3 separate regions of the Homo sapiens genome follow, and regions 1 and 3 are each linked to region 2. The links come from fine-mapping of genetic effects on gene expression. A gene starts in region 2. Each other region holds a variant in brackets. All regions are shown on one strand. Distances are from middle to middle. Region 1 overlaps LOC105376921 (a long non-coding RNA gene). Region 2 holds the start of CHL1 (cell adhesion molecule L1 like). Region 3 overlaps CHL1 (cell adhesion molecule L1 like).

Region 1 (11,274 bases), 130 kb after region 2:
TTAGTTGGGCATGGTGGCACACACCTCTAGTCCCAGCTACTCAGGAGGCTGAGGTGGGAGAATCACTTGAGCCTGGGGAGGTGGAGGCTGCAGTGAGCTGTGATTGCACCACTGCACTCCATGGGTGACAGAGTGAGACCCTGTCTCAAATACATATATATATAACTTTACATATATATATACTTTATTTAATTATTCAGACAAAGTTCTGAGTTAAGTATTATTATGCCCATTAAACCAATGAACAGACAGAAGCTTGGAGAAGCTGACAAACTTGTGTCAGGACACACACCAGTAAATAGTAAGGCTAGGATTCACGCCCAGATCATCCCCACTCTAATATATAACGTTTAATAACCATAACATATCGCATGATTAAATTATATTTGGCAAATGAGAGGGGATTTATGTCCATTCAGTTTTAAATAAAATCACGGCTTGGAAAGCCAGAAAAGTTTTATTAACATCCATGTCGTTCAGTTAAGCTTATGTTGAGCGTATGTCTTTTAAAAGAAAGCTGCTTCTAAATTATTGATCAAAGCCTGTGAAACTCAGGAAAGGAAGAAATCGCAGATCTAATTTATCGACCATAGATCCCTAAATACAAATTGATATAATCAAGTCAACCAGCCAATTTTAATAAACCTTGTCTCCATATACATAATCAATGATATGAATTTAAATTAACTGTCTCATATTTTTACAAGAATAGTCTGCAACATATAACACTTAGGGAGGAATATATGTGGTCATATGGGAAACATGTCTCTGTTGCAATAACGTCAAACTGAAAAGTCTTAAATTAAACATCACTTGAAACATAATAGATGAATACACAGTTTAAAAATGTCCTGTAAAACTTTTAGTATTAATGAACATGACTACTCTCAATTCAGATACCACCATTTGTCATGCTCTATCAGGCACTTCACATACTTACTGTACTAAATTGTCACACAGTTTAGTGAGATAGGTATGACCTCCAATTCAGGTCTGAGGACATGGAGCCACACAGAGGTTAAATCACTGGTTCCAAAACCCACAGACGTTAAAGGGACCTGGCAGCAATTCATAGTTAGGTATGGTGGCGCTAAGTACTGCTGCTTTTTCAACTAAATAAGATTGCTTACCTCTGTAAGTGCTAGACTTCCATTTCCTATGGCTTGCAATTTTATCCTATTATATTTTCACCAATACTTATTTATTTATTTTGACATAAGATATCACTCTGTCTCACAGGCTGGAGCACAGTAGCATAATCATGGCTCACTGCAGCCTCAAACTCCTGGCCTCAAGGGGTCTTCTGGCCTCAGCGTCCCAAATAGCTGGGACTATAGGTGTGTGCCACCACCACGGGCTAATATTTTTTCTTTTCTTCCTCCCTTCCTCCTCCTCCTCTTCCTTGTTCTTCCTCTTCTTCTTCTTCTTCTTCTTCTTCTTCTTCTTCTTCTTCTTCTTCTTCTTCTTCCTATTTTTTGGTAGAGATGGGGGTCTCCCTATTTTAATCGTTCATGTCCTGGAATATCATAAAACAAGTTATATTTATTGGGAAAAAAGTAAAAAGTACACCTTAATCATATTTTTCTGTTTAAATTGCTTTGACAGTTTTACTAAGGCTTTTACACTAACCTTAATGTAAGTGTTGTTTGTACAATTATTATAAAATATTTATGGGTGCTGGGACATCAGGATCCAATTATAAATTTGCTTGCAAATTTAAAGTAGCAATAATTCATGGGCCTTTGAACAAAAATCCCAATGGTTAATGAGTGAATAAGGGTTTCTCTGGTTTGGGAAACAAATGTTCGTAGAAGACATCTGCAAATAGATCATAAGAAGAATGTGAATGCATCACCAATCCTCCATCTCTTTCCTAGACATCATCCCCTTCTACATAGGGTTTGCCATTAGGAATTTTTATTTTGGCCACCAGTAGTCCCTAGTTGTCTGATCACAGACAAGTTGGCTGAACTTACTGAACTTCAGGTTAAAAACTAAAAGCTTATTTATTATGAAAATAACAAGATGGGCTGGGTATTGTGGCTTTACACCTGTAATCCTAACACTGTGGGAGGCCCAGGTGAGAGGACTGCTTAAAGCCAGGAGTTTGAAACCAGCCTGGGCAACATAGCAAAACCCTGTCTCTATTTTTCAAAAAAAAAAAAAATTAAAAAGAATAAAAATGAGAATAATAAGATGAATATAATAACATGCCATCATTCATTTTATTATATTAAATGTAATTGTGATTGTGAAAAGAGGTTTGTAAATACAGCACAAATTTGAATTTATGTTCCTAGTGCTCTTAATACAATTCACCCAGTCCGGTCTTTCAATTTTATATATATTGAGGTCCAGGTAATAAAATGAAGTACGCAAGGGCACACAGTAACATTTCTAAATACCAAGACTATGTTTTTCCTATTCTTTCATGTTGATTTTTATGAGACATTACTCCCTCTCACAGCAACATCGTTGCACAGATGCGCGTTGCACAGCTCTAGAGGGCACCATTCGTATTGTGATCTATGAGTAACACATGCCTTGAAACAGAGCTCAAGATGAATGGCACCCCCCGAAGTTGTGTGCCAGGTGGCCGTTTTCAATATTGCCATCTCAACTGGCTTTTTCTTTCCTCTATTAGATACCTGTCAACAAACCTCATTGTTTTAATATTTTAAAATGCCTGTCCATTTTAGTGATTACCTTTGCAACAACTTTTTTTTTTTTTTGCTGAATAAAAGGTCTGCGTCACATTTAAGTTTTTCTCAAAACCTAACACCTTTTTAGAGCCCTGCAGTTTTGGTGGCCATTGGAGACTTCAACATCCACCTGAAATCTATGCTTTCAATATTAGGATTTCCAAAAATAAAGGATTCTTGACTACATCCTGAGTTTTTCCCTATTATTAGATAATGTCAATTCTTCAGCTTTCAGAAATATTATACCACCTTGCATTATTTTGTCCCACATCTTTCTGACATCCTGAGTGCCTTATTTAGCCCCTGACCAGCATTTCCTCTCCAAACCCAGGAATGTTAGCATCTCCAAAGGGTTAGTTCTAAGCTCTCCATTGTTTCTTGTCTCTTAGCCATTGACTATATTCCACTGCCAAGATGAAGGCTTTTGGACTCAGACAGATCTATGTTTTGAATCCCAGCTCAGCTGTTCATTATATGCATCTCCACTGAACAGAACCTGGACTCTCTGAGTTGAATTCTTTCACTATCAGACAGAATTGATAACACTAATCTCACAAGATTGGTCTGAGGAATAAACGGTGCCATATTTAGAAAGCATCATACGTCCTCACAAATTATAGTCCTACTATGGTGATAATTTCTGTCATTGCCTTTTCACTGGAATTTGAATTCTTTTGGGGCTGGAGACTATGCCAGCTGTGTTAGTCTATTTTTATACTACTATGAATAAATACCCAAAACTTGGTAATTTATAAAGAAAAGAGGTTTAATGGACTCAGAGTTCCACATGGCTGGGGAGGCCTCACCATCATGGTGGAAGGTGAAGGAAGAGCAGAGGTACATCTTACGTGGTGGCAGGCAAGACAGTGTGTGCAGGGCAACTGCCCTTTACAAAACCATCAGATCTCATAAGACTTATACAGTATCATGAGAACAGCATGGGAAAAACCTGCCCCATGATTCAATTGCTACCACCAGGTCCCTCTCATGACATGTGGGCATTATGGGAGCTACAATTCAATGTGAGATTTGGGTGGGGAAGCAGCTAAACCATATCACCAACCTTGATCACTATTGTATACTTAGTGCCTAGAATGGTGCTTCCACATAGACAGTGCTACATACATGTAACCTGAATGTAAGCTGGCACCCATGTAGTAGAGTTTCTGAGGAGAATCCTAGTGACATTCACTCAGCCCAGGAGCCAGAAGTAGTGCAAACTGCAGCACATCCATTAACTTGCATTTCTCAGAAAAGGAAAACTGTTCATTTAAAATTTAAATTAACACTTTGTAAAATCTTCTTTTCCCTTTTTCTTCTAACCTATCATCCTCTCACAGCTCTCATTTCTTTCTCAATTCCTCACCCAAAACTTCTTTGCAAACCTCTTAGTTCTCTTCATTCCCTATATCCAGCAAGTTCTGCACCATGTTCATTTTGAAATATATGTTTTCAATGCACCTTAACTATAAATAATTGACTCATGTTATTCTGTCATATTGTAAAGGATTCTGCAAAAGCCCTAATGCCTAACAAGGAGACGTTACTACTAGAGCAGAAAAAGTGGAAACCGGTGTAAACCCAAGGGGACCATCAGAGTATAAGAAACAGTTAGTCTCCAGATCGGACAAATGAACATGTTCAAAGCAATAGAATGTGGAATCAGAATGAGGGAAGGCTCTGACCTAAACTGACTTTTGTGTTGCACTTCCTAATAATTTTGTGAAGTTCCACTCTGTCCCTCTTCATGATAAATTCCTGAGAGCAGAGACTTCAGTAATTCATTTATTCCTTTTGTAACAGTGTCCCAGCAAAGAACTAAGCATACTGCAGATTCTCATAAGTTGAAAAGGCACTTTTAATACATCTGATTTACCTTTCTTTAGGCCTGTAGAGACAAGGAGAAATAATCCTCCTCAGGAAGCTGAAGGGGGTAACTAGGGATACTAGATGCTGAGAGAATCTCTCCTAAAACATTGAATAAAATCTCCCTTAATTCAAGTGCTTTATTATTTCACCCCACATACATTTGAATAGAGTGCTGGTAACAAGTCTCATTCGCCTACTGATGATATTACAGAGAAAACGTTAATTGTTGGTGAAGAGTAGTTTAGAGAGTTTGACTAAAGAGTAGCATGATCTAATGGAAAGATGTAGACCTGAATTCTTATCTTTGCTCCAGCAATTATGAACTGTATGATGTGAAACAAGTCCTTTAATCTTTCAGTCTTAATTTCTATCTTTATCTGACTTCATCTTGTAGGGATGTTAGAGATTAACAAAATATTTAATGTAATACCTAGCATAGAATATTTCCTAAAAATTTGGTAGTATGGCCTTCATAATACTACAGTATTTTCTATATATTTTAACCTGAAGCTAGCAACCCAAAAATACAATCCTAAAAAAGAGAGATACTGAGGTTTTACCAAGAGTAAGATTTTCTTTACACTGCCATTTAATCTCTTTTTAAAAAATATGTTCTCTATGCATTGACTATTCCCATTGCATTTTGTCTACTCCTTGCCAGTTTTACCACTCACATCCTTCTGACTTATGCTGATGTTTTTCAAGTCTTGACTTAGTCACCTTTTGAATGCAATATTCAGGCTATCTAATTGGGCTTCATAAACCAACTCCTCCTGGATTTCAGTTATTTTCTCTGCTTGGTTTTGAGTTTCCCATTTAGGTTTGTTCGGGATCTTGGCACAGGTCCAGAGGAAGGCAACATGCCTGGGGTGGGGCATCCCTAGACACAATGTTTTACCAGGTATGGGAGAAGTCTCTATGCCCCTGGTTATCTTGCAAAACCTCATTTGCTTCTGGCTGAGAACAGATTGCCCTCACCCTCCCCTTCATTTCGTAACTGTGAGAACAAAGAAGTCTGCTCCTGTGAGAGATAAAGTATTCAGCAGTGTTTGAGATGATTAGAAACAAGAAAAAGATTTCTTGTGGGTTTTGACAGGGCTTTCTCCTCTGCACTGGTGGAAGACAGAGCTTTAGTCAATATTCTGCTACTAGCCAAGAGGTTTACCGCAATTCTGATCCAAGCCTAACCCTGCGAAACAAAGAATTTCTTCATGCCATGAATAATCTGTGTTCTGCAGGCTGGGTGACCTCCTTCCCCGAAATGAAGTGCATAAGTGACTTT[T/C]GATCTAACAAGTTTATAGAGTGACTTCAGGGAAATCTCATGTTTAATTTGTGTATTGACCATGTAAATATGCGGCTTTGAATGTGATTGTTTGCTGCTGATGAGCCATCAATCAAGCTGCATTTTAAACTTGCTTTCGAAGCAGTGTTTACTTGAAATGAGTGTTTAGAAGACAGGGAGGAGGAGGGGGACATTTTAGAAATGTTCTTTGAGGCTATTTTAGAGATGTCCGTGACACCTATTTGCACATTTTGGGACTTTTATTCAAGTCAAAAAACATTTACTGAGCACACACAATATCCTCAGAAATGAACTATAAATCAGGACATAACATTATCAGTAACATTTTATGCTTACTCTGGGCTAATGCCTATTCTACTTTCTGGGGATTACCAAGAGCTAAGAGAACTGTATTTGTTTTCTAGGTTGCTGTAACAAATTACTACAAACCTGGAGGCGTAAAACAACAGAAATGTATTTTCTCATAATTATGAAGGCCAGAAGTCCAAACTCAAAGTGTTGGCAAGGTCACACTTCCTCCAAAACTGTAAGGGAGAATCTGCTGCATGCCTATCTTTTAACTTCTGGTAGGCACCATCAACCCTCAGCATTCCTTGGCTTGTAGTTGCATCATTCCAATCTTTGCTGCTCTCTTCATATTGCCTTCTCTGTGTATGTCCTCCGTTTTGTGTCTATCTCTGACTCCCTTTTCCTTTCGCTTTGAAGGATACATGTGTGATTGTTAGTTTTATATATTAACTTGACAGGGCCAATAGATAGGACACCAAAATCCCTCTCCATCTGTGGACATGAGAACCTCGAAAAAAAAAGTTATCTGCCTCCAAAATACAATGATGGGCAAGTGTAGTTAATAGTTATAAACACTGCCATTTTAAGGGAGACAATGGAAGATACAAAGTGGTCACTGATGCCAAGCCAGTTCAAAATCCAGCAAGGAAAATTTCCTTAGGTTTCAAGACCTGACAATTATTTTCTGTTGCTTGAAGCTATGATCTCTGGGTCTGGAGCTTTGCCCTCTGTACCCAAGGCTCTGCACTCAGAGTCATTCTTCTCTTTTTTTTGAATGATAATACATGTTTGTAGCCAACTAGTTCTATCAGCCCATTTTCTGCCTATAAAATCCCAGAAGTCTGACAGTCTGCCTTCATTATGTCCCATGTATGTCCCTTTCAGGCCAGTCTGGCAGTGTTTCTGCTGATACAATATTCCCCAAAACCTTGTGGGTCTCCCATGTTTGTCACAGGGACTCATATAATTAAACAACAGCATACTCCGTAGGCCTTTCCTGGATAAACCCAACTCTTCTTAGCTTCTGTTGAGACGGTTGAGTGAGTTCAGAAGTCACACATCTGCAATTATTAAATTCCTGTCCAGCCACAACTTTGGCTTTCTCTCAAGAGCATTTCTTTTTTCTAACGGTGATCCTTAGTCTCAATATTAGTTAGGTTTCTTTTTAATCCTGATAGGTTGTAAATTTCCAAAATTATTAAATCATCATTTCTTTCTGCTTAACAGTTCCTTCCTCAATCCATTTATTCCCTCTTGCATTCTACAATAAGCATCAAGAAGAAACCAGGTTGCACTTTTTGACAGCAGACCTGGTCATCTCCTTAGCTAAATATCCAAGTTCATTGCTTATAAATCCTGCTTTTGACACAAAAATTGTAGGACACAATTAAGCCAACTTTTCTGCCAGTATATAATAAGGATCCCTTTTCCTCCAGTTTCCAATAACATGCTGCTTATTCCTGGTGCTGAACCCTCTTCTGCCGTGCTTCTAACATTCATATTTCTACCAATATTCTTTCTATGACAACACATGTATTCTCTAAAACTATAGAAGACTTCCCTACCTTGTTCCTCACTTTGTTCTGAGCTCTCACCAGAATCTCCTTCAATGTCCATATTTCTACAAATAGTCTGTTCAAAGAAGTGTAGTCCTTTGTTATCATGCTTCCTCATATTCTTCCAGCTTCTATCACTATGCAATTGCAAAGCCACTTCTACATTTTTAGAAATTTATTACAACAAATATAAAAAACCTGAACCTGGCCTGGTGGCTCATGCCTCTAGTCTCAGCACTTTGGGAAGCTGAGGTGGGAGGATCACTTGAGTCCAGGAGTTCGAGACCAGCCTGGGTAACATGCCAAAACACTGTCTCTACAAAAAAATAAAAAATTAGCCAGACCTGGTGGCTACTGTCAGGTACTATCCCAACTACTTGAGAGGCTGAGGTAGAAGGATTGCTTGAGCCCAGGCCGTCGAGGCTGCAGTGAGACATGATCTTGCCATTGCACTCCAGTCTGGGTGGCAGAATGAGACCCTGTCTCAAAACAAAGCAAAACAAAATAAAATCTGTATCAGTTTTCTATTACCACCGTAACAAAGTACCACATGTCTGGTGGCTTAAAAGAACATAAATTTATATTCCCCAAATTCTAGAGGTCAGAAATCTGAAATCAGTTTCACTGAGTTGAAATCAGTGTCAGAAGGGCTGTGCTCCCTCTGAAACCTCATGGAGATAATTTGTTCTTTGCCTCTTCCAGCTTCTGGTGGCTGTAGCAATTCCTTAGCTTGTGGGCCCATCACTTCAATCTCTGTCTATGTCTCACATCACCCACTCTTCTTCTGTCTATCTTCTTCTTCTTTGTGTGTCTGTGTCTAAATTTCTTCCACCTCTCTGTGATAAGGATGGATGTGATCACATTTACCTTGCACTAGGATAATCCAGGATAGCTCCACCTCTCAAGGTCCTTAGATTAATAACATCTTTTGCCCTATAAGACAAATAGTTATTCTTTTGCCGTGTAAGATAATGGTTACAAAACCTGGGGATTAGAATATGGACATATCTTTTTGTGGGGGCCACCTCACTGCCTACTATAACAATTAATAATCAATAATATCCTGTTTTATGTCAGACATTCTGCTAAGCATTTTAAGTATTATTTCATTTAGGCTTTAAAAAGATACCTTAAAGAATGTGTTATTATCTCCATTTTATAGATGAAGAAGTTAAAAATCAGAGAGGAATTGTCTAAATTTATTTTGTGTTGCTATAAAGGAATACCTGAGACTGAATGATTTATAAAGAAAAAACTATTTGGCTCACAATTCTGCTGGCTGGAAGACTGGGCATCGCGTGAAAGGCTCAGGCTTCTTCCACTCAGAGTGGAAGGTGAAGGGAAGCTGGCATGTGCAGAGATCACACGCTGAGAGAGGAAGCAAGAGAGATCATGGAGAGGTGACGGGATCTTTTTAACAACAGGCTCTTACGGGAACTAAGAGTGAGAACTCACTCACCACCACACCTCCAGGTGAAAGATTCATTGTTGTGTGACGGCAGCGTTAAATTCAAGCAATAAGGGGGAGACTGTGCAACTTAAAGCACCACTTTGTTTCATGTTTCTGATCCGGTGAAAGATTTAGAGCAAGGAACCTAGACAGATCATGAAATGAAGCTGGCCAATCCTGAGTGCTCATGAAGCAACAACTTGGTATCAAGTTTTCTGTGCGTCACCTTCGAGTAAGACAAATGAGAGAAGATGGGGTTCTTTCCTGAAAGAGAACGCTAATAATCATTTAAATGCACATGATAGAAATATTAAACACTGGTGATGGACAGAACAGATTGGAAAGTAAAAGGTCAAGTATCAGCAATGGCCCGAGACGGAAGAAGCTTTGGAAAATTGGCATAGACACAGTCTTCAGTAGAAGCATGTGGCTGAGCAGACAGAAAAGGAGAAGCAGATGGAGGTGATGGATGACAGGCTATGTGTTTGTGTGTGGGTTTGTCTGATTGGAGTAGGACTCAAGGACTGGATTGAAGAGGGAGGTAATTAGGTAATTTCTTTTTCTCCAAACCACTGAGTTTTTGTTTTACTTTATAAAATAACACCTATTAGTTATCATTATTATTAGTAGTAGTGTTTCAAACATAAACTATGTTAATGTGATATACAAATCACACAAACACATAAGTGAACATAGAAAATAAAGACTGCTGGTAATGGTAACTTGCAGAAATAACCACTGTTAACCTTTCATTCTGAATGTTTCCTATTGTATATATTCATCCACATCTATTTGTACACTTTTCTTCTACTTTGGGGTTATGATACACAACCTACCCTGTAGCCTGTTTTCTTTTCTTTACTTAAAAATCTAAGATTTTTCAGATTACATATTCCTCCTAAACATAATTTTAATGGTTGTGTAACTTTTTGTTACACAGGTATATTAACACCAATTTAAATAATTTTTTATTTTTCAGTATTTAGGTTGTTTCCTATTTTAGCTTCTTATAATATTAATCTGATCAACAAATCTGCATCCATGTATTATGTGCATGTAAACTGGATTATCATTTTAAGTGTGAGACAAGAAATTCCCAGCAGTTATTCAATATTAATATGTTTCTCTCTCTCTTCTCCCTGTATATATTACACAGACACACACAAGCATATAAAATAACACTACAAAACAAGTAGCAATATACCAGCAAGGCTGAAGAGGTAACGGAAATACATAGATGGAAAATCCAAGATACAAATTCAGTTCTCTCTAACAACAAATTCTAAATTGTCTCCTCTATGACACTACTGCTAATAGTAATAATAACTCGCCTTAGTTGAGCACTAACTATGTGCTAGGCAAGGTACTAAATACTTTATGTAAACTGTCTCATATAACCCTTACAACATCTCTATAAGGTTGTAGACGCAAAAAGGGGGTGATCCCTTTTCTCCTCATAAAGGGTCATGGCCAAAACTCCCCGTAACAAAAGAGAGCTTGATAAGAGACAAGCATAACAAATTTATTATGTGCATAGGAGTCACACAAAAAAATATTAAAAACTCAAAAAAGGGCCAGATGATTGATGCTTAAATATCCTCTTCATTGGAGAGAGGAAAGTGAATGAATAGACCCAAGGACAAGATAATGATTTATCAAAGATTCTCTTTGGATGCTGAATGCAACCAAAAAACACACAATAGCTGGTGGACAAGTTAGAGAAGGGTGTGGGGCAGAACTGCATTGTGAACAATGGTTGTCTTATTACGCAAGTACAGTTCCCCAAGTAATTTCTCACAACTGCCCTTAAAAGAATCGATGAAAAGTCTGTCTGCATGTGGTTACAATTTCCAGTCTCTCCTCTTCTCCAGTGTTAATCCTTCCTGGTTATTTAATGAGATTCCTAAGAAGAGGGTTTTAAGATAATTTCCTTTAATTTACAAGAAGTTTTCTCAGACAAATACGGAAATTTCAGAGAAAGTCCCTTTTGGAAAATAAAAAGGATCAGAGAAACAGGAAGGCAGAGGAAGGTCAGAGGGAGACCTTAAAGGTCTCCCTTTACTTTGGCATGCCAGAGCAGCATATTTTGAGGTATTGGTTTCTGAG
Region 2 (11,274 bases):
CATCAAGGGGACAAACCACTGGGTTCTAACCTGTGGCATTCTGCCACCTGGGCATTCAGGTCCAATACTGTGAGAACATCAATCCTTTTAAGATAAGCCAGAAATATGAATTTTACATGAAATCTCCAGTATTTAAATGTTGGCTGAAATTTGTCTTAAACATTCTTTGGGCCAAATGAAATATTTATACAAGCGGTGTTCAAAGTCCAAGGGACATTGGTTTGGCTCCTATATAGACTATGGTGCCTCTTCTTAGAAAGAAAATAAAAATCTGTTTTTCTTTACACTGCACAATTATAACCAAAAAAAGGATGAAAGTCTCATTTTTAAAGCTTTTTCTGACACAGTACTTTAGTCCAAAAACAATAACTCTCCCTACCTCATTGGAAGTCTGCAGGCAAAACAGAGAAATATTCAAAACCCCAAAGTCACAGGAATCTTGTTATCTGGGCCTGTTCTAAATGTATGAATCTAGTCAAATCACTTAATTTCAGTGTAGCTCACTCCATTCACATTCATCTGCAAATCAGGATAATTACTTCTTTCCTACCATCTTCACAGAGACATTTGGTTGAAAAACGAAATTATACACAGTAAATGAAAAGCACATTTGAGATCTTCAGAGAATAAAGTGCTATTTAAACCAAGAAGATTAGTAAGAAAAACCTCAGAAGTTTGCCAGAGCATTTTTTCTCTTTCAGCCACATTTCATGACACCAGGGTGACTGTGAACCAATGCCTTAGCCCAACACAATCTTGTGGACGGCGTACGCAAATCTAAGGTGATGGTTCTTAACCAATATTGGTACATTAGGGCGTGTTAGAATCGCACTAGAAGTTTTCAAAAATCCAGATTTCTAGTCACCATCCACAGAGACTGTAATTGAATTGATTTGGGTTGGTAGCTTTACAGAACTCTCCAGACGATTCTAATTTCAGCCAAGCCTAAGAACAACTATTGCGAAAACCTTTTAAATATGTGAAGCAATCATTATTGGTATATGTGCATATAATTAATGTAGGAATCAACAGTTTGCCATTTGACACCACCATTGATCATGGCTCACAGTTATTCACATACACAGGGATACACACACACATACGCTCTGTCCCTCTATCTTTGTTCATTCACATACTGAACATGATATAGAAGGATAATTATCACTACAATAAAAAACCGTGCTACTAATCTGTCTGCATAGATTGCCCCATACAATGTCCACAAGAACACATGTGACATGTGAGCTAAGTATGGCTATTTCCCCGTTTCTAAAGAAGAAACTAGTCTTAGAGAGGTCAACATGACTAAGCCAATGCCACACACCTGCAAGCTGACAGACTTAGATTTTGAACCCTGGCAGCCTGACTTTTATAGCCAGTGCATGTAACCACCACAACAGTTCGCTTCCTGCTGTGCCAGACACTTTAAGAGTTTATGAGATGCATAAAAGGAAATGTATACCCTCAAGGAGTTTACAGTCTGAAAAGGAAATTGTGATGCACACTAAAATTCATAGGTTGTATAGGAAAATGGCACAATTGTAGTCCCTGGAGTTAGGAAGAGGTGAATCAGAAGATGGGCAACAGAGCTCCTACCTCCACAACTATAGGGGAAATAAGATGCAAACAAACATTAGAAGGGAGAATGTTATAAGACTACCAGGAGAAGAAACCCTGGTCAAAGCATAAAATATAATTATATATTGACCAAGTTCAATGCATTTATCATTCTTATCATCATCTGCCAGCATCATTTGATTCAGATATTTATACCCACCCTAAATGTACCAAACTGTCAGTTCAATTAGCAAACTATGAATTTTGAGAATTCATCTCACCTCAAACTCTAGTTGTGATTCTTATTGAAATTATGTATATAAGCATCACACACACGCACACACACATACACATATACACTCACACACACTTCTAATAATTTAACTTCCAAAGAGATACACAAGTTGTATTCTTCACTAGGAATAAATTATGTGAAAGTGAAGTCAACATTTCAGGAAAATGCCTTAAAATTGAAAACGGAATATGTCCCTTTGTATTTTTATGATCTAAACACAATGAGAAGGTAAGCAGGATCATTTTTTACCCACAACACATAAAATCTCAATTAGTTATGGTCTATTTGTGCACTGACTTAAAACATTCGTTAACGAAACAGAATTTTCTAGTTTACTGGATAAATATACCAGAAATGGCAGAATAATGTCAGGTTGCCAAGCAACCACAGCTCTACTCTACTTTGTGATCAATCCAACTCATTCATTGAGCTTCCTAACCCAGTGATACAGAATTCCAACCAATTTGTTTCTTGGGAAAATTATAGTGACTTTCAGTAACACAATAACACTTTTATTCTCAGAAGATAAACTTAAATCCTTTTTGATCAAAGGGATGTGTTAATTCATTATTCTCTACGTGGTGCTAATGAGAAAGCTATAATTAACTAACTACACTATTGCGACACACATAAAATAAACTGCAGTAATTAGTAATGTTTAAGGTGTTAAGCAGCCTCCCAAATTAGAAAATACAATCTTTCCTCAGATAAAGATGTACAGAAAAAAGAAAGCAGCATATCTAATTAAATTGAGAATTGTTTCCAGTCTCCCCCAAGGGGTGAGAGGAAAGGCATGTGATCACCAAAATATAAGAGATTTCACTTTAATAGCAGAGAAAAGGCTCAATGCCAATTCTACTTGTAGATAGACATAAAATGATAGCGAATAATGTAATCTTTCTTTGAAAGAATGCTTAGCACAATATTTTTCCAGGAACAAACAGAAAGAATATTATGCTTTCACTCATTAGCTGTGTTAACTTAGCATATTGTATGTAAATGACCATAATAATTGCATTCTCTTCCGACTGAATTAGTCAGAATGAAACTGTAATCAAAATGTTCATAATTGAAAATATAGTATTCTCAATCTTGGTTTGAAAAAATAACAAGGAACGTTGACTGAATCAGATAATATAGTACATCACTGAAAACAACCTCAGTACAGAGACAAGTTCATTCTCTTGATTATACCTTTGCATTTCAATTAGGTCCCCAAATTCAGAACTCAACACCTCCCAATCTGTCATGTTTTCCTACTCTTACCATTTGTCTCTGGACTAACTTAAGCATTCCAAGTGCATTGCTGCTAGATTTTTAGGGAAAATAGAAAATGGTGAAAAGCTAATTTTATTGTTTCTAAAATACATTAGACTCTATTGCACTGTTGGCTGTCATAAATTAAAGGGCAAAATAATTTCCAATAAATGAAACATTTAATGCCAAAGCTCCTGGGAAACAATATGTAAATGATCACATGAATTTCAGAGAAGCTGTCACACTAATTCCTCAAGGTACCTTTTAAAGATGACATATTCACAGTGAGGATGAGAGGGTTGTCTTGCAAAGCCAAACACTGCTACCTGAAGTAATACTCTCAGTATTTCCTGACAATCATTCCTTCAAATCTGACACCAGTAGTTCCCCAACTATTACTTAATTTTCTTTTATCGGTTAAAAATACAAGAATCTTAAATCAGTCTTGATCGTTACCCTTATTTTTCTATAAAAGCGAATCAGGCTAAATTATTTCAACAAAGCAATTTTGGGGCAAATAACCTCCTATCTTCAAAGATTTCAGAAGCAACTATAAAATCAGGTTTCTATCTAGCAAATGTTTTTCTGGGTGAGCTCTATTTTGTAAAGGTCACTAAGGATCTTTGTGATGGTGACATCTGTCAGGCTTTACTTGCCTCAAGTTCACCAAGAAATGCCTATATTTTAATAATCAAATGATTTTAAAAATTTATTTAAAACCAATTCATGTAATGAGATGAATTAACTTAAATGCAATAAGTATAGTATGTGCAAAATCAACTCCTCTTAGACCTACAGCTAGGCCCACGAAGTGTACAGTGTACTTATCAGCAGATAGGTTGGAGGACCTATATAACCATGAGGAATCAATAAATATCTATAGCCGTTTCTTTGAAGAAAAGGATCCGTAAGTCTACATGCAACAGATAACAATCTGGGAAACATATATTCATCATCATAGTCTTGTGCTGCAGTGAAGTGGGTACAAACATACCCTGAAAGAGATTTTAATGAGTTGCCATAGCCAGTACTCACACCCATCCAGTAATAACTATTTGTCTCCATTGATTTGCTCACAATATTCAGGAGCTTGCAAGGAATGATTATACACTACGTTCTGCCATTACTAAAGGTAAATCCACTGCAGCACTTAAGGCCATAAAATGGAAAGCCAGGGTATACATAGGCTCTGTAACCACGTTAAATTATGAAAGCCAAATGGTGGTCCCTCACAAAGAGACTGAAATTAAGACAAACCCAACTGCAACATCTGCAGGTGAAAGAGAAAACACAAAGATTTACAAAAGAAAAACTCTGGGATAAACTTTTTATTTTCTTGTCACCAAAAGTTTCCCCAAAGAGCTTCCTAAGCTTCTCTCTCCATCAATATACTGAAAAGCCAACTTCATCGGCAGTTGATCAGTTTCTCTCTTCCAATCTGCTGCAAGGCAGAGCTTCGTAGGAGTTGGACTGTGCAGTACAAATATTCATATTTTAATTAAGATTATTCTCCAAAATTAGAAAACGCAGAATTTTTACTTCAATGAAAATGCAGAGAAATGAAAATGCACCATATGTAATTAAACTGAGGATTAACTAACAGTAATGGCATCAACGACAATAACTTTTGAGTGCTTATTATGCATCAAATATGCATATGGTGTTAAATTTAAAAATCTATGGTGTTAAATTACTTGTATCATCTCATTCCAGTCTTGCAACAACCCAGTATAGAGGGTATCGATAATCTCCGTATTATTGAGAAAGGGAAACTGAGGCACGTAGTTAAATGCCTAGTCCAGAGTGACGCATCACAGTGATGGTGGAGCTGGAATTCGAAGCCACGTGGGCGTCCCGGGAGCCTCCGCCTAGAGCGAGCCCGGGGGGCCCACCAGTTACCATCGCCACGCGCACGCGCAAATCTCCCCGCGCACGGCGCGTTCCCGCGGGAGCGCGCCCTCGCGCACGCGCCTGGCAGGGCAGCCGCTCGCCGGCCCTGGGGCTGCTCCGCGGCTCCCACGAGCGGGACTGGACGCCGGCGCCCTTCGAGGAGGGGCTGAACCTGGGGCGCCCTCTCTGCCGGGCCACCCAGCCCTGCCGACGCACACCTGCCCTCCGCCGCCGGCCTCCCACCCCTTCCCCGCCCGCCTTCCCGCCCAGCAGCCCAAACGCCCACCCTGCGCTCCACCCTGCTGGCCGTCTGGGGCGGGGGTACCTGGGCCCGCGCGGCTGCTGCTCCTCCGGCCCGTGGTTTTTCGCAGGAGTTCCCCGGCCCTGCCCCTGGCTGAGACACTGTGGCTCGCAGCGAGCCCGGAGAGTGGGAACGGAGGGGCTGGCTTTCCCCAGCCTCCCGGCTCCAATCCCTGCTCCCCAAATTAATCACTTTCTCCGTGCTGCCTCCCCACGCACACTCACACTCCAAAAAAAAAAAAAAAGCGAGAGAAAGAGAGAGGCACAAAGAGGAAGAAGGGACCATCCGCGACCGGCATCTCCAGCCCCCCGGGCTCCGCTACCAGGAGCCATGGCAACCACGGCCCCCGGCGCGCCCTCTCGCCCCTCGGCGGTCTGGGGAGGTGGAGCTCTAGCCCCTCTCTGGGTTTTCGTGCTCCCCAACCCCACAACCCCACGGTCCATGGATTCCCCGCTCCAGGCTGGCGGCATTTTCGGAACCCCCCCCGGGCTGGGATCTAGAATCCTCTCCTGAGAGGAGGAGCCACACAGGGGCAGTGGACTGGGGGGGTCTGAGCCCCACACACCAGGCGGTGTCCAGGGGAGCGAGGGGCGCGGTGGGAGACAGAGGCCGGGACTGACCCCCAGACCAGCTAGACCTCGGAGCCCCACCCGAGAGAGGGCGGAGATCTACGGGGGGGTCTGGAATCCTCCTCAGAGAGCAGCGAGGGATGGGGTGGCGGAGGCTGGAAGCGGGAGGGCCAACCTACCGGCGGCCGGCGGGCGTGAGTGGGACCCGGCGGATTCGGGCGCCCGGTGTGCTCCGTCGACTGACCCCGAGCTGTCCGAATCCGGCCTCGGCCACCGGGGGCGGGGCGTGAAAAGGGGGCGTCTCCTCCCGGGTGCAGGCTGAGGGGCCCGGACCACCCCCACTGCGGACGAGGGACCCTGACCGCGCCCCGCTTCCTTTCCATAACGAGTGGACCCCTCCCGGAGCACCTTCAGCCCTTCCTCCACGGGAGACCCCCCCAGCGCCGGCACGAGAGATGCCAGCGGACCCCCACCCCTGACACACCTGCGCCGCCTCCGAAACGCGATCTGTCCGGCGCCTCCCCTCGGGCGCCTTCTCCCCCGAGCCGGCCGGGAGCCGGGACGGGGGCGCGCAGGGTCCGGTAAGCTCTGGGCGGATCCAGGGAGGGTCTCGCCGGCCGCTGCCCGCTGGTCCGCACCCGGGGCTGTCCGCGGAGGTCCCGCCCGTCCCCTCCCGCCGCTGGCTCTCTGGCCGCGGGAAGGCTGGAGCCGTTCTGGCTGGCACCGGGGTCTACGCCCTCCTGCCGGAGGCTGGCTCTCGCCTCTGCTCCCTTCCTGGGTTCTGCGCCGCCACCCCTCACCCACGCCGCTTATCTTCCCTCCCTTTGCACGCTCCCGCGGGACAGGGAGAGTTACAGGCTTCAGACTTTATCTCGTTGTGGAAAGCAAGAGACCAAGCCAAAAACTTTGGTCGTGCTTTTCAACATCTCCGGTCAAAAGAGGTAGGATCCCTGCTCGTTTATCTGCAAAAGCGACATTTAAAAGAAACGCCCCCCACCCCCTCCCCGATGGTTTCACTCGGTTCATGTTGCACACACAGGTCGCCAATCTGCTTTTCTCCCATTGCTGCGTCTTAGAGGGGTGTGGTGCCATGTACGTATTAAAAATTGTCTTCTTGCTTTCCTTCATTTAAGGGCGTGGTGGGGCTTGCTATTGAATTTACAAAATATGCTACGACCATCCGCTGTCAAATTGTGCATGCTTAAATTTACAGATCTTCTACTATCTCACAATTTTTGCCCTAATACAGAGTCTATAATGTTACCACATCGTTTCGTAACGTTTTTCCTACTTATCCTTTATTAATTCACTATTGGAGAGGAAAGCCTTCTGTACTCATATTCAGTGCAAAAAGCCAGTTCTGATGCCTTATGAATCCACAAACACATAAAAATATTTTAGGATTCCAAAATTCATATGGAAAAATTATAATTTTTAGCACTACATTTGATTTATATGCCACTTTATTTTTTTTCCATTATGGTGGTATTTTCCAAAATTTTTACAGGATACCACTTTTGAAAATCCTGTTGAATGCAAGTCCTCTTTGTTGGTAAGAGAATTATTGACTTCTAATTTTTACTCCACTAAGGCTGTGAGATTGACCTTACAGCCTCGTTTTGTTTTCATCTAGCTCATTGAACAATGAGGATATTTAGCTCCCCTCAGAGCTACCCTCAGAGTTGGATGAGCTATCCTCAGAGTTGGATGCCACCACCGGGAGCAGCAAAAGCGAAGGCAACTCATGATTCTGCCTCAGAAGCAATCGAATAAAATATTTTGAAAATGAATGAATGGACTTTTAAATTTTAATCATCGCTAACCTTGGGGCCTCGATTCTGTCAATTTGTGTGTGGGCACAGTTCTTACCAACTGCCTTGGCAAATTGTGAATGCAAGTGAGGGCAGGATTTGTCCTAAGTTTAAATTGTACTGCTGGAGTGATTTCTTTTGCCTGAGGCATCATTATTCACGTGGCATGTTTTCTAAAGTAGAAACAAAGATAGAATATTAAATAAAATTCCAACAGGGGGAAATACTCTGCCTGTAGAAAAACATTTCCAAGGTCAAGGAACCACAAGAGAACAACAAAGCGAAGTTGGTCTCAGGAGTTTACCATCTTCTGGGTGAACAAACATCAGCTGAGCAAGGGACTCGGAACTCCATTTTGGCCAGATGAACAGAGTACTCTTAAATATATAGCTCCTTCTTTCTTGGTGATTTGTTTCTTGACAATAGAATCATTATTTACAAAACAAATATTTATTGAGCAGCTACTATTTAATCAATCACTGGTCTGGGTGCTGGGCTCAGTAGGAAACTCAATAGGCATGGCCAGTAGCTTTTTAAAAAATCAAATACCCTCCAAATATATTAGACAGTACCAAGCCACAATACCCAAAACAAGAAGATGGCCAGTTCTTAACTATGAGTTTTTAACTGAAAGGGAGATAACATTCTTCTAAGCTTCTGGCATTGCATATAAATGAAGAAATAATAGCCACACATAGCTTACTAGGGACAGTAAGGAAGTCAGCTTGTATGCAATACACGTTATCCCAGGCAACCAAATTTTACGAAAGAAAAGAGGGAGATAGGGAAAGTCTAGGGAAGGAAAAAAGGGAGGAAGGAAGGAAGGAAGGGAGGAAGGATGGAAAGAAAGAAGGCCAGCAAATGATAAACCAAGAAAGGAAATCGTACTTTTTAAGGCAATGCAAAAGGAAGACAGATGACCTAAATTTCTACATCCAAGAAACACCTCATAGCTGTCGCTTCCAAGGATGAGTTCATATTTTTGATACATTATCAAAAGCAGGCAACACATCTAGGCTTGCCTGGCCCCAGGAATTCACAACTCTACAGCCTGAGCTTCCAGTAAGGCTGGAACCAGAAGACAGTCCCCAGCCAGAGCGGATGCTTGCTAGAGATACCTTCTGCTGCTGCTTTGGAACCCTCCCCTGGCTCCCATTCTACTGTCTGACACTTGGTTCAGACCCATTTCCCATTCAACATACAATCCTAATCTATCAGGCATCCCACAGTTGCACCTAGGTGCTAGAGAAAGAAGATATACTTATGAGTCACATGGAAATGTGATTGCCGTAGCTTTGAAAGGTGTGAATTTTCTCTCTGATAATTGAGGACGGCCGTTTCGAATGAAAATACTAATATCAAGCCACAAAAATAGGGGAGAAAAGGGCCCTATCATGAATAGAAGCAGAAGGTGAGAGAGAGGCCAGTCATCTGGAAAAAGATAAAAGCTATTAAAAGCTGGGGCATTTTTCAGCTTTTCCTGCTGATTTACTGCCTCCCTCCCTCCCTCCTGAACCATCATTTGGTATCATTCCCAGAGCTAGGGCCATTGAAGTAGTATTGCCTTTTGGCAAATACAAGTAGCTAGTGATGTGGCATCATTCCTAGAAAAATTGTTTAGCAGAAGAGCTGGAGTTTTGAAAATGGCATTTCAGTCTAGCAGTTCCAAATAGTCACAGATCAACAGGGGCTTTCCGGCCAACTGCTGTAATAAAAAATAAAAATAAAAAATAAAAAGCAGGAAGCAGGATGTTCCACTGAGGAATAGATCCTTCAAAAGCAACCTTGAAAGTACAAAGCAGCCACTTCAGCTTTGATATTAATAAAGCTAAAAAGACCATATTAATTCTGCAGAGTTATCCTGACAGAGTCACTACTCCTTTAACTTGTCCTTTAATACAAGAACAAAAGGATATGTATTAAAAATCAAAGGGCAATAATTCTGGAACAACTAAAAAGGTAAAATCTTGTATTGCATGCCATGGATCATTAATATGTATAATTCAGCCCTGGGAGGTCATGAAATCAAATACTTTCACTGGATTTTTTAAAAAGGCTAAGAAACTTTGTGGCCATTAATAACATTATAATTATGTAGCCAAGATAATGTTAAGTGTTTTCAAATCTCATGCTTTAAGGCATCCATTGATTACTTGTGCAGGTCAGAAGGATTTCCCACCCTCCAATCAGCAATGCCTACAATGACTAGTTTTCTCTCCTATTGATGGTTTGCTCCAAAGTCCTATGCCCCCAAGTCTTATCTCAAAGGCCTGTGAACTGAGTTATAGGATGAATTCCTATTTGTTGGAGAAAGTCCTCATATGTCTGGAGGATGAGAATTTCTTCTAAACCTCTCTATTTCCAACATGGTACGAAATCTTTTCAGTCTGGAAGGGACCTCAGAAAACATAATCTTCCATAGCTTCTTTTTATATCTGAAAAGAGTAAGGTTCAGAAATTTTATCAGAGTTGTACAACTGGTTAATGGCCGAGAATATATTGAAAAAAATCTCCAAGTTTTTAATCTTGTATCATTTTACAGGATGAAAAGTCACTGCCATCTTTGAAGATAATTTTATTTATTATTATTCTGTTGCAGCAAACAAGACAAATGTCGAATAGTGGGATAGCGAGTAATACCAGGAGCATAAAGGCTGATCTTTTTACAGAGACACATAGCCAAAATGAAGTTTCTCCTTTTCTTTTTTTTTCCAGTTGTTTTTGAAAGTATGTTTTCCACTCAATGTAACAGAAACATGTTAGAGAAAAAGGAAAGACCAACAAGAGCTTGTGGCAGCCACAGGTTGTTCTCCACTTCCTCTGCCCACTAATCTGTTTTTTGTTGTTTTTGTTGTTGTTGTATGTGACGGAGTCTGGCCCTGTCGCCCAGGCTGGAGTGCGGTGGCGCGACCTCGGCTCCCCGCAAGCTCCGCCCCCCGGGTTCCCGCCATTCTCCCGCCTCGGCCCCGGGAGTAGCTGGGACCACAGGCGCCCGCCAACCCGCCCGGCTCATTTCTTCTTGTATTTTTGGTAGAGACTGATTTTCACCATGTGAGCCAGCATGGTCTCCTGACCTCGTGATCCGCCCGCTTCGGCCTCCCAGAGTGCTGGGGTTACAGGCGAGAGCCAATGGCGCCCGGCCTAGTTCTTTTTCTCCTTCTGGACACAGGGCCGCTAACCTAAAGACTAAATTTTCTAGTCACTCTTTTGACTTAGTTTGGTTCTAGGACTAGGTTCTCACCAAAGAGACATGAGGAAAAATGCTGTTGGCAACTCTCAGCTCATCTACTTAAAGATCATCTAGATTCACTTCTCCTTTTCCTTTTGACTAACCCACAGTAGTAAAAGGCTCATGTTGAGGATGACAAAGAAACCCCACTCTGGCCTGAATTCCTACATGACTCTGAGGATCAGAACCTACTTAATACCATAAAAAATTGAATGTCCCCTTTCAATTTGAGCCAATCTCCTTTGGAGACTTTTATTATAACTGCTTAAACTTTATCCTTAATGCAACTGTAATCTCTGTCGTCAGAACAATTTCAGAAGAATAGTTAAGAAAAATAAGAATGGAAGCTACCACGAATACCTGTT
Region 3 (11,248 bases), 87 kb before region 2:
AATTTGTACTCCAAATTAATACTCACAATATTTGTGTGATCTTTCCCCAACATGTGCAGAGAATCACAAAATTTGAGTTACCCCCTACACATGTTGCCAGCTGAGGTTGAACAAAGTGAAACTCTGCCTTCATGTTTCAGTTCTCTTACTATAAACAAGTGGTTTTTTCATGGTCTATTTAGTTCTTCTCATTTTTATGTTTTTTGTTTATGATTCTGCTGTTTAAAATGACTTGCTGTTTAAAAATAATGCAGAAGTGCTCCCTAGTTTTCTTAAGCACAAGGAGGCTATAACATGCCTTACAGAGAAAAAAACTGTGTTGAACAAGCTTCAATGAGGGGTGAGTTACGGTGCTATTGGCTATGAGTATACTGTGAGTATACTGCACTCCACCCTGGGTGATAGAGTGAGACTCCATCTCAAAAAAAAAAAAAAAAAAAAAGATACCAGTGGAGCAATGTATCTATGTGCTACCATAACAAAAATGATCATTTTTTTGGTATATTTGATGCTCGAAAGCACATGAGCATCAATATGTATTAAGTAAATGTATTAATGAGCATACAATATGTATTAAATAAGATGTATTAAATCAATATGTATTAAATAAATGTATTAATGAGCATAAAATATGTATTAAATAAGATATGTATTAAATCAATATGTATTAAATAAATGTATTAATGAGCATACAATATGTATTACATAAGATATCATTAAACAGAAATACATATAAAATAAGATTATGTATTGATAGATTGACAAAAATGTGGCCAGAGTCGTGCAGGAACCAAGCTCTTATTTACCTACCAGGAGTAATTGTTCAGTATTTACTAATTCAGTGTTTGCAGAGACTTTATAGAAGATAACTACCATGAATAATGAGAGATGGATAAATACATATAATTTTAGCTAGATTCTATAATTGCTCTCATATTGTGAATTATTAATGGCAAAAACCACAATTACTTTTACAACAACCTAATATTTTCAGAATAAAATCACTCATCTTAATCCACAACAGGGAATAAAGCAAATAATTTCAAGGATTAAGTAATGTGTTATCGGTAAGTTTGAGCACAAAATTAAATATGATATCAAGTTTTTATGTCTTTAAGATAAAAACCAATAAATCTAACTTTGCAAATGCATTTTTAATCCCCAAAATATTATATAGATGTTTGTTTCATGACTCCCTTTTAAATGAAAAACAGTTGTTACATTAAAGGAGTAAAACTAAGAAATTAAAGCAAAGTAAGTGATGCCAAGATATTATTCATTTCTCTTGAGTTCTAGGCTTCTACTTCACACATTTTCTCCTTGATCACCCTTCGCATTGTCATTTGACCTGTTTTCCAAAGGAAGAAATGTTGATTAAAAGTATCTGAAAGAAAGAAATCGGGAAATAAAAACAAAAAAGAAGCTCACAAAACCAAAGGCATGATGGAAAAAAATGATAAAGTCTTCATCTAATAACACTAAATAGATAAAAGTTGTAAATATTATCGAAAATATTTTTCAGTTGCACAATTAAGCTTGTCTCAAACTATATTTAATGATAAGCTGTCTTCACTATATAAAGATGGTGTTACTGGTCCCACTGATTTAAAAACCCTTCACAGACAATTCCCTGTGGACACAGCCTGACACATAGAGAATGCAAAGATGGAGCGCATCCCGCCCATGCCATTCGTCAGAAAAATGCTGAGATCCTTGACCAGTAGAGGTAGGGGGTTGGCAGGGGAGCAATCACATCCTCCTTCATGGCCCCCCTCCTGTGACAAACAACGTGTGTGAAACAGCAGCCCAGGGATCATGATAGGATCTGTGGCAATGCAACAGAGCCAAAAGACAGACTCAGAGGAACAGTAGATCTGTAAACTTGACCTCATTAGTAGCAAACTGTAACCAGTTGCTAATTACCTTCTGGATATATTGTACATTAGTAGCAAACTGTAACCAGTTGCTAATTACCTTCTGGATATATTGTACATTGTATATGCATATATGTAAATTATGCCTGTATATATGTAAATTCGACATGTGTTTGTCACCTAAAATTTGCAAAAGTTTAATATGATGACTGCAGTTAGAGAGAGGAGATAATAGATTAACCAATACCTTCTAATGAAAATGAAGGTAAAATCTTAAAGTAGTGACCAACTTTCTGGTGAAAAATGCACTAATTGTACTTAATGTATAAACTTGGTCACCTTAAATTAGCTTTGTTTCATCCTGTATTCTGAGGAGAACATATTTCAATCAGAATCCAAGTAAAATAAGGCTAGCTAAAGAATTCCAGTGAAGGCGGGTCATAGTGGCTCATGCCTGTAATCCCAGCACTTTGGGAGGCTAAGGTGGGCAGATTGCCCGAGGTCAGGAGTTTGAGACCAGCCTGGCCAACAGGGTAAAACCCCATCTCTACTAAAAATACAAAAAACTTAGCCTGGCGTGATGGCGCACGCCTGTAGTCCCAGCTACTCGGGAGGCTGAGGCAGGAGAATCGCTTCAACCCGGGAGGCGGAGGTTGCAGTGAACTGAGATCGTGCCACTGCACTCCACCCTGGATGATAGAGTGAGACTCCATCTCAAAAAAAAAAACAAAAAAAGACACCAGTGGAGCAATGTATCTATCTGCTACCATAACAAAAATGATCATTTTTTTGGTATATTTGATGCTTGAAGGCACACACTAATAAGTAGCATGCTATCAGTAAATTAAAGCATCTTACTAAATCCAGTTAGTTCTATGTATTGTAAATATTACCTAAAGAGTTAAATATATCAAATCAAAGACTGGCATTTATTATCTGAGTAGAAGACATTTTAGGATGGATTCTAAGATTATAAGGAGGTATCTCAATCATCTTTCCCAAAGCACCTCTACTGTAAAAAATAACTACAACATCAAATGGCTTGCGTGTCTCAGCACAAATTTATATAAGAGCAGGTGAAAAGACAATCGAATGTGTAAACCTATCAGGTGGCAATTACGGTTTGCAGGAAAAGTTCTTCAACATTCAATATACATTGAGTGTCTGCATGTACCTGGCACAGAGCTATTGTCTAGAGAGGGAGTGGTGAACAAGACAGATTTCTTCACTGACCTACTAGAATTTACATTCTAATGATGGTAAATATAATATGTATTAATATATAATATATGACATTTTAAATTTTTATATTATATGTTGATACATATGTGAAAAGTATAAATGAAAATGTCAGAGGCGTTTGAACCAGAGCAACTCCATCTTGAATGGGGGTTAGGTAAAATAAGGCTGAGACCTACTGGGCTGCATTCCCAGAAGGATGGGTATTCTAAGTCAGAGGATGAGATAGGAGGTTGGCACAAGATACAGGTCATAAAGACCTTGCTGATAAAACAGGTGGCGGTGAAGAAGCTGGCCAAATCCCACCAAAACCAAAATGGTAATGAAAGTGACCTCTGGTGGTCCTCACTGCTCATTATATTCTAATTAGCACGCTAAAAGACACTCCCACCAGTGCCATGACAGTTTACAAATGCCATGGCAACGTCAGAAAGTTACCTTATATGGTCTAAAAAGGGAAAGAACCCTCAGTTCTGGGAATTGCCTACCGCTTTCCTGGAAAATCATGAATAATCCACCCCTTGTTTAGCATTAATCAATAAGTAACAATAAGTATAAGCAACTGGGTAGCTCATGCTTCTGTTCTGTCTATAGAGTAGCCATTCTTTTATTCCTTTACTTTCTTTGTTTAATTTTTTTTTTTTTTTTTTGAGACAAAGTCTCACTCTGTCACCCAGGCTGGAGTGCAATGGCGCAATCTCGGCTCACTGCAACCTACGCCTACTAAGTTCAAGTGGTTCTCCTGCCTCAGCCTCCCAAGTAGCTGGGATTACAGGGGTGCGTCACCATGCCTGGCTAATTTTTGTATTTTTAGTAGAGATGGGGTTTCACCATGTTGGCCAGGCTGGTCTTGATCTCCTGACCTCAGGTGATCCACTCACTTCGGCCTCCCAAAGTGCTGGGATTACAGGCATGAGCCACCATGCCCAGCCCTACTTTCTTAATAAACTTGCTTTCACTTTACTCTATGGACTTGCCCCAAATTCTTTCTTGTGCGAGATCCAAGAACCCACTTTTGGGGCATGGATCAGGACCCCCTGCGAATAACAAAAAACATTAAGGGTTGTGATAAGTGCCTTGCAGGAGACAAACTGGGTGGTGTTATCTGGGGTAGGGTGGGCAGAGACATCTTACACAGGAGGCTATGGAGCCTATCTTGGAAGGGGATCTCTAACTTGGAATCAGAATTATGAAAATGGGGGTAATAAACTTTATGTATTATATTCATTACATATTATGTTCATTTATAATTCATTACTGTAATTATGTTCAATCTTGAAAGTGACAGGAGAAAAAAAACTGCCAGAGAGAAACAAAATGCAGAAAACTGAATAAAGTCATCACAAGTCTGGAAACACTGCTTTCTCTCTCATTGCAACCATTTTTCTTTCCTAAGCATCAAGGCAGGCACATTTTTTTTTTCATAATTAGCAGTGATCATAGAAAGCAAAATAAAAATATTGTTGTTGTTGGTTTTAGGTCACTTCTGAGGGAAACAAACATTGCTAATCATAAAGTTATGATTTATTGAGCATTAGCTATGTAATGTGCATATTATACATAGTATTTCATTCAATCCTCACAAATATTCTAGAAGACAAGAATTATGATCTCAATTTTAAAATTGAGTAAACTGAGGTAGAGTCTACGTAGTTTGCCTGAGAGTACACAGCTGGGGAGGAGTCAGGCTTCTTCTCTGGAGCCCAGTGAGACTTGTGAGCCTGTGAATTTTAAGTACCAGGCTAGAAAGCAAAATTAGGGAAAGAACTGAAATGATTATCTTCTCTGACTTCCTTTATTCATCTGATCACATTCCCACTGACTGTACTGAATTTTGTACTCAATTGCTTAATTGCAGTATAAAAATATACATTGGCTCCTCTGGTGACACTACTTTTAAATGCCATTGGCATTTTATAGAGAAAATGGTGGGAGGGACTTCATCAGATTCCATTTAAATGCCCAAGTCACCCAGCTGTCATAATGTCTTCCTCAAACAAGGTTGTATTTTGTAATTCATCTCTTCCCTTTACAGAATTCTGTATCTCATCAAGATGTTTGACTTGCAATTCCAGTTTTGACTTGATCCAGCATCTAGCATAAAAG[G/A]TGAAAGGTGATAATGAAACTTATTCTAATTATTTCAATTATGCTTGAAAACATGCGTAAGCATGTTTAAACACACAAATATGCTTAAAACAGCTTTGTATTTCCAGTGGATAAGCCTACTTTCATAAGGCAAGCATATGCAAAATAGTTCATTTTAGACATCTATTTATAAGGGAAATATTCATGAGAATAAAAATGCAGAATACATTATTTGATTCGTCAAACAACGATATAATAGATTCTGCAGAATTTTGTACTTAATTGCATTATCTACTACCAATGGAATTATAAATGAATCCACGTACTCATAGCACAGCTATATATAATTATCCCAAGGTCTGATTAATGTCCTTAGATCTACTGAGGTTGGAGAAAAAAAAAAAAAGATGAATACGCATTTACCTGCTTTCTTTTAAATGTATCAGGCCAGGATTTTCCTCTGAACAGTTTTCCCTGGTCACCACCATCTCCCCAGCAACATATAATGTCATGAAGATAGAACTAAAATTTGTCTTTTTCAGTGAACAATCACTAGTTCTTATCACACAGGATATTTTAAGGTCTGCATGTCTCATTTTTGCTTTTCAATGTCTTACCAGTTTTCACGGCATTGTCATAAAACAACGCCTTTACATTGGTAGGGCTATGCTCCCTCAATAAAAAACGTCAGACTTCTCACACGGTTTGGAACAGTTCCCAGTGGCTTCCACACAAACAATCTGGTGTTTTTCACAAATATGGGTAGAGAAGCAAGTTGATATGCCACCAAATGATCATCCTTTTGCACTCCTAGCATAAACCTCATATGCTATAAGAAATAAGTAAAATTAATGAATAAATTTTTCACATCTTTGTTTGTTTTCCTCTTATTATTCATTTCTCACCTTAAATGTCACCTCAGAAAGTCCTTCCTTGTCCACTAATCTCATGCAGCCCCCCTGTCTTTCCCTTATAACTTCCTGCCTTATTGTAAACAAAACACTTATTAGTAATATCTTTTGTTTCGTTGTTTTATCTAGTTCCACCGAAAGTCTGTAAGCCCCATCAGGGCAGAAACTTACATTTCACGAATGTATCCCCTCTACCTGGCAAAGTACTTAGTGGATAATTGGTACATAGTAAGTGTTTGTTGAATAATAAATGGGTGGATGAATCAGTGAGGGAGAGTGTGACTATCTGGAAAATACATATGTAAATGCATTCATTCATCTGATAAATTCCCTACTATTAGTCATTGTTAACATTTATTTTAATCATACATACTGTGATAAAAGAAGGAAAGGATGCTTTTATACCAGCTGTTCTCAACTGGGGTGGAGGAGAGGGATTTTTCCCCCACGGATGTTTTTATGTTATCTGAAGACATTTTTGGTTGTTACAATTGGGAGAATAATACTGGCTTATATTGAGATGCCGGGGATGATGGTTCTAAACATCCAATGTATGTACCCATGGGGTAGTTACCCACACAATGAATGATCAAGCCCATATTTCAGTAATGCCAATAGTTTACACTAGAGTCTGTATTCCTCATATGAATTTAATTTAACATGTATTTATTAGACAACTATCATATGCTAACATCAAATTGAATTCCTGTGAAGAAAAAGATATGTTAGAGACAGATAGACAGACAGATAGATGAATAGATAGTTGACTGGCTAGACTAATGAATAAAAGGATGGATGAATAAGTACTTCATAGATACATGTGTACATAAATAGAAAGATAGTCACAACATTCTACAAAGGACTAAAATAAACCATGTGTGATTGCTAATCTCAGGAAACTTATACTCTTGGTATTATCTAATCATGTCTCCACATAATTCATTCTATTTAATAGCAAAATGTTGGATCACAAAAAAGATACATGCAAACATTAGGGGAAGACTGCAGGCTAATTTCTGCATTGAATGCTAATGATATTCGTGAAGAGAATGGCTATGAGAAAGTGATCATCAAGTTTTATTTATGTACTGCATAAAGCAAACATAATAATATCTTTTTCAAATGAAAGGTTTGTGTTTCTTTCCCATAAATGAGGATCCCTGTGTCAAGTGAGAGATGTATTCACTATGTGAATGGAATGGTTCTGCATGTGATTAGGCAGAAAACTGGAATACAAGGAAACAATCAGAGCAGGAGCTGTTAGAAAACCACCAGATGCCCCAAAAGCAGGGCTTTTACTTGGATCCCTGGACACAAAATCAAAGTATTTTGTTTTCTTAGAAAGACCCTGTATTCTATACAGTATAGTCCAGAAAACAGATAAAAAGTGGCAAAGGCAGGATTTATATGGAGAGAAATAGTAAGTTCCCCCAAGTCTTCCTCATTTCTATTGCAGTATGGAAAGATCCAGAGTGCTTGCTTTGGTGACCCATCTAAAACTTGAATGATACAGGGAAGGTTACTATGGTCCTTGGGCAAAGATGACATGCAAATTTGTGAAGCCATTCACATTTTTCAGTGGGATGACATATTCAATGTGCTGAAGGAGAAAGACAGTCAACCAGTCACAAACAGTCAACCAAGAATTCTATACACAGCAAAACTATTCTTTGAAAATTACAAAAATAATAATAAGACATTCTTGGATAAACAGAAACTGAGATAATTTCTTACTAGCAGTCCTGCACTGCCAAAAATGTTAAGGATCCTTCAAGCTAAAATGAAAGAACACTAGATGTTAACCTCAATCTATACAAATAAATAAAGAACACTAGTAAAGGAAAATACAAAAGAAAGTATTAAAATATTGTTGTAACTCTTTTCTTCTATCCGATTAAAAGACAACTACATAAATCAAGAATTATAATACCACGTTAATGGGCTTACACAGTATAAAAGTAATTTGTATGACAATAACAGCCAAGGAGGAAAGAAGTAACAGGTACATATTAGAGCAAAGTTTCTGTATACTATTAAGTTAATTTTTATCTGATCTAGATTATTTTAGTAAAATGCTAATTGTATTCCCCAGAACAGATACTAAGAAAATAGTTTTAAAGCTACAACAAAAGAAACAAGGTAATAAAATGGCATGCCAGACAATATTTATTTAATGAAAAACAAGGCAGATATGAAGGAATAAAAAAGCAAAGACATAGAAACACCAGGCATCAATTCTACCTTATCAGTAATTATATAAGACATAAATGAATTAAACACTAACAAAAAGTAAGGATTAGCAGAATAGTTTTTGAAATGATATGATTATGTCGTATCTAGAAGAGATAAACTGTATATTCAAAGGTATTTACAAAGCAAAAGCAAAAATATAGGAAAAAGAAATAGGCTGGGCATGGTGGCTCACGCCTGTAATCCCAGCACTTTGGGAGGCCAAGGCAAGCAGATCACTTGAGGCCAGGAGTTCATGACCAGCCTGGCCAACATGGTGAAACCCCATCTCTACTAAAAATACAAAAATTAGCCAGTCATGGTGGCATGTGCCTGTAATCCCAGCTATTTGGGGGGCTGAGGCATGAGAATCGCTTGAACCCAGGAGACAGAGGTTGCAGTAAGCTGAGATTGTGCCACTGCATTCCAGCCTGGGCGACAGAGTGGGACTTTGTCTCAAAAAAAAAAAAAAAAAAGGTACAAATTGGAAAAATAAAACAAATCTGGGGTAGTTATATTAACATTAGACAAAGTAGACTTTAAGACAGAGGTGAACCATCAACAAGAGAAGATTTCTGGGCTCTGGTAGTCCAGGAGAACCGACATGACCACAACTTTACCAATAGTAAATCATAGTGGTGAAGGCAAATAAGGAACCAGAGGATAGCACAGTACCCAAGCACTTGGATGTGAGGTCCCTTTCTATTGTACTCCTGGAGTTATGTAAATTCTCAAGTTTGTGGGCAAATTTGTGGGGAGTAGTAGTGGAAGAAGGAATAACTATGAGATACTGCACAATTACTAGGGAGATTAAGTTACTTCAAGCAATTACAGGGCTTATCAACCTGAGGGCCCTTGAAATTTCCAACTGAATAATTCCTTGTTGTGAGGAGATATGCTGGGTGTTGTAGGAGAATTTAGGAGAATCACTGGTCTCTACCCTTGAGAAACCAGTAATACAAGTCATTACTACCAAAAAATGTATCTAGACATTGTCAGATGTCCCCTAGGGGAAAAAAATAACCCCAGTTGGGAATTACTGGGTTAGAAAATGTGATATCATTAATTAGAAATCCTGTAGCAAACAGTTGTTGTGTGTGCGTGTGTGTGTGTGTGTGTGTGGTGCATGTGTGTGTGTGTGTGGTGCATGTGTGTGTCTACGTGTTTTAACAAAGACACTTACTATTAGTTAACTTTTAAAACCAGAGAGGAAAGTTATTTCCACTCTATTACTCATTAAAGAAGAGTAATGATTAAACTTACTACCCACCCAACCAACCAAATTTTTCCTATTTCATCTCTACCCTTCACTGACTCCTTCTCAGAGAAAAAGGTATTTTGTTGGTGGTAGTAAAGGTGATAGTTTCTAATGGTGGAAGCTCTTGAGTCCTGCATCTTGTGACCATCGTTGAACATCTCCCTTTAAACAGTTCCAGGTTGTCTTTCTCAGGGCCTGCTTGATACAGTAAAATTACCAGAAGCAGTTCTGAATTCAGCTTTACCAGTAATAAAATTGTTTCAGCACTTTAATTCTTATCTAAATTATTCAGCACTTTAATTCTTATCTAAGTTATTCAGCACTTTAATTCTTATCTAAATTATTTTGTGGCTCTTCAGTTTGCTGTTATTAATAAAATAATTTGCCACAGATTCTCTTTTCTAGTAAGAAGACTGATGTTCAATTTTCTTGACATACTTTGTTAGAAAATGGTATAGCTACCATCCATGACAGTGCCACAGTCTCCTGAAAATCCCTTGCAAAATCCCTCATTCTTTTAGATACAAAATTTTCATCACTGTTAGGTACACTAAAAAAAAAAAAATGCCTAGACTCTACTAAGAACTTTTTAAATATGAATTTCAGTTTTAAATTTTATTTTTATCCCGACTTAGCAAAGATATTACATGACACTTCACCTGAAGATCCATGCCTCCAAAATACTTATCTTTACACACCTATATTTATTTCTTTTTATTTTCTTTTCAGATAATAGAAACCTGATTTTAGGACAACATAACCATAATCAGCAGTTAAAAAATACTCAGTGTGAAAAAATGATCTACATTTTCCTACAGTGGTTTTATACCCAGGATGAAAAAATAAATGCTTGTCAAGTAAAGGCATTAACACATTTTCAAGTGACTTCTCAAGTGCAATTTTATCCCTTGTCTCAGCATTTCATTTATACAGCATTTATTAATCAAGTCTAAGCAGCCTTTAAGTCCCCAATCCCTACTTCGGATTCCCTTCCAATCACTGCCCACTTCTCTCATTGTCTCTGGTACTATCTTTCCTCCCTCCATTGTTTCAGTTCAGCTTTTTGCTCTGCTCCTTCAATCATTCCAACTATACTATCCTTTGAGAATAGCAGTCATCAATTTCCAAAACCATAGAACAAGGACTAATGTTTATACTTTCAAAGGAGATTCAGTGAATAAAAAAGACCATTTAAGAAATGCCAGGAAAAATTGATTACTCCAGAATTCAAAGCAACCAGTCCAGATTGTGGAAGAACAGCACCATTTGTTCCCTAGACTTGGTAGTGACATAAAGGGAAAAGACTGCTAAATTTATCTTTGTTCTTTGCTGTATATGAATTTTAAAACTCACAGAATCTAAGAAGCATTTACCTTAAGAAGAAGGAAAAAGACTAGCTATAGAAAACAGCTCCCCCCTCGATTAAAATAAATATTTTAAGAAGCTTAAGGCTCTGCAAAAAGATATATAAGAAGATCCAAAATAGAAAAGAAAAGAAAAGAAAAATGATGCAAGAAACCGGATACTTTCTCTATTGAGAAATCATTTGATCAAAAAACTTTTACTATTTCTCTGAGGTAGAAAGCCATATATAAATGCTGGACTATATTCTTTGTCTTTATCCATAAAAATAACTGCTAAATTGCAGTTTT

Evidence for each region. PIP is the estimated chance that this variant, and not a neighbour inherited with it, causes the effect.
Region 1: its variant is the best candidate, but not a certain one, in a credible set for the expression of CHL1 in unexposed skin (GTEx, PIP 0.67).
Region 3: its variant is the best candidate, but not a certain one, in a credible set for the expression of CHL1 in unexposed skin (GTEx, PIP 0.73).

Annotation. Positions count from the first base shown.
Region 1 is chr3:57,869-69,142 of GRCh38, reverse strand. It overlaps LOC105376921 (a long non-coding RNA gene), which reads right to left. Exons shown (of 3, transcript XR_940533.2): 2 at 1,630-1,818; 3 at 1,426-1,516. LOC107986040 (a long non-coding RNA gene) reads right to left here and starts at 1,258. Exons shown (of 2, transcript XR_001740550.1): 1 at 1,131-1,258. The variant T/C (reference allele first, on the strand shown) is at 5,854.
Region 2 is chr3:192,143-203,416 of GRCh38, reverse strand. CHL1 (cell adhesion molecule L1 like) reads right to left here and starts at 6,654. Exons shown (of 28, transcript NM_006614.4): 1 at 6,354-6,654. It overlaps CHL1-AS2 (CHL1 antisense RNA 2), which reads left to right and starts at 6,076. Exons shown (of 4, transcript NR_144487.1): 1 at 6,076-6,450; 2 at 6,909-6,961; 3 at 7,377-7,421; 4 at 7,503-7,659.
Region 3 is chr3:279,126-290,373 of GRCh38, reverse strand. The region is part of intron 2 of CHL1 (cell adhesion molecule L1 like); the gene reads right to left. It also overlaps the pseudogene RNU6-1194P. Among named protein-coding and RNA genes, the nearest start is that of CHL1-AS2, 87 kb to the right of the region's middle. The variant G/A (reference allele first, on the strand shown) is at 5,220.